Linked DNA regions of Homo sapiens. The protein of the gene in region 1 interacts with the protein of each later gene in a pairwise test. Each region holds a gene or a part of one and is shown on either strand. Other genes may lie near its edges. The genes, in order: ZPBP and CALU.

Region 1 (3,850 bases):
ATAATTCATATAATTATATAATCTATATAATTCATATAATTATATAATCTATATAATTCATATAATTATATAATCTATATAATTCATATAATTATATAATCTATATAATTCATATAATTATATAATCTATATAATTCATATAATTATATAATCTATATAATTCATATAATTATGTAAAATTATAATATATAATATATAATATACCATATATAATTTATATTATATATAATATATTATATATAATTATATATATTATTATATATAATATATAATATATATTTTATATCAAGATATTATATAATATATAATATAATATAATATAATATAATTATATAATTTATATAATTATATAATATATAATTTATATAATTATATAATATATAATTTATATAATTATATAAAATTATAATATATATTATATAATATACCATATATAATTTATATTATATATAATATATATTATATATAATTATATATATTATTATATGTACATAATATATATTATATATATTTTATATTATATATTATATATATTTTATATATAATATATATAATTATATATAATATATATAATTATATATAATATATATTATATAATATATATAATTATAATATATATTATATAATATATAATTATATATAATATATATTATATAATATATATTATATCTGATCTATATTATATATAACATATATAAATATTTACAATTTGTATATAAATATATATTACATTATATATAACATACATTATATGATAGAAATAATCACTGATATTTAAAACCAGTGATTTTATATATATAAAATATATATAATCACAATTTTAAAAATAGTTACAAAGTTAACAGTTGGCAGTTATTTCTTTGTTTAATTTGTATTCTATTTCCTAATATAACTTTGTACTATATTTTTGTGAAAGTTCATATATTTAAATAACAAAACACAAAAAGTTATAAAGATAACTCTAGCCAAATCAAAGAAAACAAAGTAAAAGGAATAGTCAGTAGTCTATTTTATGAAAAGGCTTTTAATCTAACTTAAATTGCAGAAAGAAAGGAGAAAAGAACAATTAGAAATGACTTAATGAGAATGATATTGCTATGATTTGGCTATGGTTTGTTTGTTCCCACAAAATCTCATGTTTAAATTTAGTTCCAAGTGTGGCAATGTTGGGATGTAAGGCGTAGTGGGAGAGGTTCGGGTCGTGGGAGCAGATCTCTCATGAATAGATTAATATTCTCCCTCGGGGTGACCGAGTTCTAATTCTGTTAGTTCCTGTGAGAGCTGGCTATACAAAAGAGGCTGGCACCTGCCCCCCTCTCTGGCTTCCTCTCTCACCATTTGAGTTCTGCACACTCAGGCTGCCTTTCACCTTCTGCCATGGGTGGAAGCAGCCCGAGGCCCTCACCGAATGCCCAGTCTCAAACTTTTCAGCCATCAGAATCGTGAGACAAATAAACGTTTTTCCTTTATAAACTATCCAGGCTTAAATATCCTCTTATGGCAATATGAAACAGACTAAGACAGGTATAAATTTAGTGATATTAGTATAAATTTTTTAAACTCTTTTAAGACTGAAAAATTAATTTTTATATTATGTATTATATAATATATGTTATATATTATATATTTATATTATATATATTATATATTTATATTATATATATTATATATTTATATTATATGTATTATATATTTATATTATATATTTATATTATATAATTTTATATTATATAACATATAACATAATACAATTTAATTTTATTAATTAAATTATAATATAATATATAATTATAATATAAATATAATATATAATTATAATATAAAATTATATTATAATTATATATAATATAAAATTATATTATATATATTATAATATAATATAAAATTATATTATATATATTATAATATAATATAAAATTATATTATAATATATATAATATATAATATAAAATTATATTAATATATAATATATAATATAAATATATTAATATATATTTATATATTATCTAATATATGATATATATCCAGAACACAGATATGTAATATACATAATATGTAATATATAATATATTATATTATATTATATATATTTTATATATATATATATATATATATGTATAACTCCAGAACACAGATAAGGATAAAGAAAAACATAGAAATACCCAAAAAATAAACTGGAACATAGTAGTTAAGCTATTACATGTATTTATATCATTATTCAAAGAAGACTTAAACTAAAATTGTTAAAATATTTGCATCTCCTCAATTATAAGTATTTTGAAATTGTCAAACATAGCTCTTTCAAGTGAAGTAGTAGTTTTGAATGTCAGAATTACACATAATTTTATCATTAAAAATTTTTTTTGTATTTAAAAACTTTGGGTAACAACACAATTGTAATGTTTTCTAATTTCACCATGTAATGATTACACTCAACTTATTATGTACTACACTATTTGATCAAGGTAATTGTTTTTATTCTTGTCATAAGAAGTATATGAGATAATTTAACATGAATCTCAAAAATATTTTCTGTCTCTAAAATACTGTTTTGTGCTCCTGAATATTTGATCTCTGCCCACGGAGTTTATATACTTAGGAGATGCATCCATGAAACAATTAGGGAACAAGAGACTGTTAAGGGAAAAATACAAGAAGATTATATAAAGAAAATTGAGTTTGCAATAGGATAGATCACAAGGGTTCAATGTAATTGTGATACGGCTTTCTCGGTGAGACTTGTGTTTGAGTCTTGAGGAAGTTACTTTGCAGGATACCAGGATAGCAAGTACCATCCAAGCAATAGCATGAATGAGCATCAAGTTTATGGGGGGGAATTTTGCTTAAATAAAATAAAATTTATTTTTTGGATTTTATGGGCTCATCATCATTGCTCAATAGACTTATTAATTAGTGAGTTGCTAAATTTCATTTTGTGCCATCTTATGGTTAATAAACATTTTAATTTATAATTATCTTTGTGTTATCATTCCTGTAAGCTATTAAGCAAGATTCAGTTCCCTTAATGTAACATTCAGGACCCCATAGGATAATAATAATTTTTGTTTATTTTACAGGAGGTTATCACCCTAACGTTTTAGAAAAGCATATAACTACTCAAAAAGATACTTAAATAATTCTCTGAATAGAAAATGATTTAACAAATTACCCTGTATTTTAAATTAGGATAACACTAGTTAAAAGACAAAATTAACATAGTAAATGAATTTAAAATCCATTCAAGTATGAAACTGACTACTAGATAAAATGATGATGAGCTCACAAAATATATGAGGTATCTCATGAAACAACTTCTGTCCAGAATAAAATGATATACCATGTTTATATTCAACAAACAAGATTGAGACAAAGCATTTTATGACATAAGGGAAGTTTGTTTACTTTCTCCGTAGTAGGTGAAATAAGCACCAGATTTGTTCTTTTCCTTCTGGAAGAGAAAGCTTGTTTCCTTATAAATTAGTGAAGACTTAACATTTCCACCTATATTATTTTTCTTTTTCCTAACTTATTTAGTACTTTTAAATTAATTTATACTGAAAAGCTTCTCTGTGATTTGACATTTACCATTCCTTATAATGTACAACATTTTGTTAATCAGTTTTGGCACTTTAAAGAGAGACTTATTAAATGTGTGAATTATCAGTGTCTTATAATTTTATAAATTATATAATATACTACAACCAAAGACTAGCCTAATATTACGTTGTTTTTAAAAGAAGTTTGTGAAAACACAGATTCTGAAATGCTTTACTTTTCAATTTCTATTATATTTTTGTATAGCTTATATATTCAACTTTCTCCCATGTTATTTCTGCTAGTTTTTCAAAAA
Region 2 (3,850 bases), about 79 Mb from region 1:
AGATGTAACTTCATCACTAGAGAGACGTTAAATAAATTATGTGTTGGTATCATGACTTTTATCAAATCATGAAGGATGCCATCACTTTTATGTGATAGTCCATTGGTATAGTACTAAAGTTTGTAAGTAAAGAATGTCAGATAGATAACAAGATAACTTCATTTTCGAGATCTCATAACCTGGGCCTTAGTATAGTTAAATTGCTATCAGTCTGTTCCCTGTAATCTCCAATTGAAGTAGACAGTTAAACAATGAGATCCTGCTTTTGCTGCGTTATGGAGAAATAAATGCCTTTTCTGGTGAATATCCATCCAGCTCAGAGAACTGGAATTTTACTACCACACCCATTTCTCCCAATTGTTAACATTGAGCAATGGGTCTTTGGTCAACCATAATAACTGTTGGATCACTCAGTGTTAACGTTCTTGTGAAGTTGAATTTAAACATCTAAATTTCCCTGAAACAATTTAAGTATTCTGTGACCAATGGCACTTTACCAAAATTGAAAGTTTGGGCCATGTATTGCTCGCAATACTGGTCCAATGGATACACTATGGACACTAAGGACAAAAACTTCCTTGAAAGCTCTAAGTTCTTACCTGAAGGGTGGGGTAGGGAGAAGTGATAAGAATTTAGAGCTTTTAAGGACATTTTTGGATGGATCGAAGAAACCAATTCTTAAGACTCATTATTATTAAAATCACACTTAACCCAGTTAGGCTTTTCTCTTTATAAATTACTGGAACGATTCATGAAAACAACTTTATAGAAGACCATTATTGGTGACATACTAATACTACAAAAGGATGATAGCTACTGGATATATTTTCTGTTCTAATCTTTTGGTTTGTGTCTAACATGCTGTCCAATAAAAATATAATACAAGCCACATATGTAATTTTAAATTTTCAGGTGAAAATCTAAAACAGGTGAAAGTAATTTTAATAATGTTTAATCTAATACATATAAAATACCATTCTTTCAATATGAAATGTAACACTTATACCAATCGCAATTCACACTAGCCACATTTCAAGTGCTTAGTAGTCACATGTGGCTAGTGGCTACTGTACTGGGCAGTACAGGCCTAGATTTTTTTTTTTTCCCAAGAAAAAAATATTAGATGTTACCCTTCGTGGAAGAGGGACAGAATTTTAGAGAGAGAAACTCATTTGAGAAATGGGAGGTGGGGAAATTCAGTTTTCACAACCATTGGTTTACTTTCTAGATCACATGATAAAAGCTCATACAGCTAAGTCTTTTGTTTATGTGTATCATATTTTTCCTAATATTATGTTGTCCATTATGTCCATAGTATATCCATTGGACCAGTATTGTGATCAGTATGTATGGCCCAATGGATACACAAAGATCTTTCCAGCTGGAAGTGATCTGTACCTATTCCTCTAAACTTTTTTTTTACTTTTTGGACAAAAGTATCCAATTTAAACTTTTTTTTTTCTTTTTCTTTTTTTGAGACAGGGTCTTGTTCCCTCACCAAGGCTGGAGTGTGGTGGCATGATCATGACTCACTGTAACCTCGTGTCTCCGGGGCTCAGGCGATCCTCCCACTTCAGCTTCCCCGGTAGCTGGGACTATAGCTGCGCCACCACACCCAGCTAATTTTTTGTATTTTTGGTGGAGATGGGATTGCCTAGGCTGGTCTTGAACACCAGCATTCCATCCGCCTTGGCCCTCCAAAGTGCTGGGATTACAGGCTTGAGCCACTGCTGCTGGCCCAGTCTAAACTTTTATAAAGTGTTGAAGTGGGTGAGGAAAATGAGAAGGGCCATTAACTTTGTATCATTTGGTTTCAATTTGGTTGAAAAGACAAAGATGCTTCAGAAATGAAGTGTACTGGCTGGTCATGGTAGCTCACACCTGTAATCCCGACACTTTGGGAGGCCGAGACGGGAGAATCACTTGAGGTCAGGAGTTTGAGACCAACCTGGACAACATGGTGAAACCCTGTATCTACTAAAAATACAAAAATTATTCGGGCGTGGTAGACCATGCCTGTAATCCCAGCTATTGAGGAGGCTGAGGCAGGAGAATCACTTGAACCCAGGAGGTGGAGGTTGCAGTGAGCCAAGATCACACCACTGCACTCCATCCTGGGCAACAGAGACAGACTCAGTCTCAACAAAAGAAAACGAAGTGCACTAAAGTAGATTTTCAAATGCTGTGTATGAAGTTATTTTTTACTGTTCCTTTCACATCTTCCCACGTAAGATATCCTTTGTCTTAGATGTCCTTTGTTTCTGCTTGAACATACATGCTCCATACCAAAAACCATATGGTTTTAGATAAATCTAGTACAGTTTTTGGTATGGATGGTGTTTTTTGTTTTTAGTGTCTATATTCATAAAACAAGAGGGCTTTGTTAAAGTTTCTAATAGCCAGGAGTTGTTATATATGTGGGCACAAAGGACGTTTTGTTTTTTTTTAAGTAGAACTTCTTTAAAGTGCAGATTTTTCATTCCTCCCTGCAGAAAGATAAAGAAGTAAAGATGGACCATTGGCTTTGTCCATCTGGGTCCTTGATGACCGTTGTAGGCAGTTTCATCAATAGTAAGGAAGCCAGGTTTCAGGGTAGCATTGGACAGTGAGGAAGCAGAGGCAGCAGGGTAGAAACTGTGGGTGAGGGAAAGGGAGGAGCAAGCATGAAGGAACAGCACAGTCTGGGAAAGACTGTGGGTAGTGGAGACCTGAGAAGCACTGATTGACAGAATGGAGGAGCCTGTTTAAGGGATGAGATTGAAAGTTTATTCAGGAGAGGGGAAGGAAGGAGAAATGGGTGAGTGATAAAGCTAAATCACTTGGCTTCTACTCTTTGGAATTCTGGTATCCTTGTATCAAGATATTAAGCCTGAAACATAAATGTAGTTTTCCCTCTAAATCACAGAGTAAACCAATCTATTACATTTCTGTATGCTACATGTCTCAAAACTTGGTACAGTATCCTTTCCAGGACCAGATTATGTTAGAGTGCATAAGTATTTATTCATATTGTAATATTTGGGGTTGGCAAGAATTGTTAGGGTATTATGCTATATTTTATTTTGAGAATGTAATCATTTGTAAAATTTTCCTAAAGATAAAGTCCCCTTAGGCATAAGGAAAATCCTTTGTTGCAGTGACTCTTGATTTTACTTGATTCTGCAAGCCTCTGTCACTATACATATTGTTGGGATATATCCCAAAACATCAACAACATATAATTCTGTTTTTTGTTTCCAAAGTTTTGTTTATCTAAAGAATTATTTGTTTATAGGCTGGGTATGGTGGCTTACGACTGTAATCCCAGCACTTTGGGAGGCCAGGGCTGGAGGATCGCTTGAGACCAGTCTGGGCAACATAGTGAGACTCTACAACATTTTTTTTTTTTTAATTTGCTGTGCATGGTGGTACACACTTGTATTCCCAGCTACTTGGGAGGCTGAAGTGGGAGGATGGTCTGAGCCCCAGAGGACCAGACTGCAGTGAGCTATCATCACACCACTATATCTAGCCTGGGTGACAGAGTAAGACCCTGTCTCAAAAAAAGAATTGTTTATAGTTTGAGATAGAAGTTTCATTTTGCCCTGAAGTAAAGGCATACTCACTTTAATGTTGTATTTATAGAGCCGCTAAATCTCGGATTTTCTGTTTACTCTTTAACTGATTTGATTGATCAGTTGAATTATTGGAGGGTCAGCCAGAGTGTTGTTCACCCAGAGCAATATTTTACAAGTGGTGCACACAGAAAGCTAATAAACATGAGAGTGTGCTGTTCATACAAATTAGACAGTACAGCAGGATACAGTATTAAAGTTCACTTTCACACCAATCTTACCAGCCCACCCCATTC

The links.
Region 2: the proteins of ZPBP (region 1) and CALU interact in a two-hybrid assay, tested with the Homo sapiens proteins (one large-scale study listed by BioGRID and IntAct).

What each region holds. Positions count from the first base shown.
Region 1 is NC_000007.14:49,978,090-49,981,939, reverse strand, and holds part of ZPBP (zona pellucida-binding protein 1 isoform 1 precursor), read left to right. Parts: intron 1-3,850.
Region 2 is NC_000007.14:128,742,065-128,745,914, forward strand, and holds part of CALU (calumenin isoform a precursor), read left to right. Parts: intron 1-3,850. UniProt on the Homo sapiens protein: Involved in regulation of vitamin K-dependent carboxylation of multiple N-terminal glutamate residues. Seems to inhibit gamma-carboxylase GGCX. Binds 7 calcium ions with a low affinity.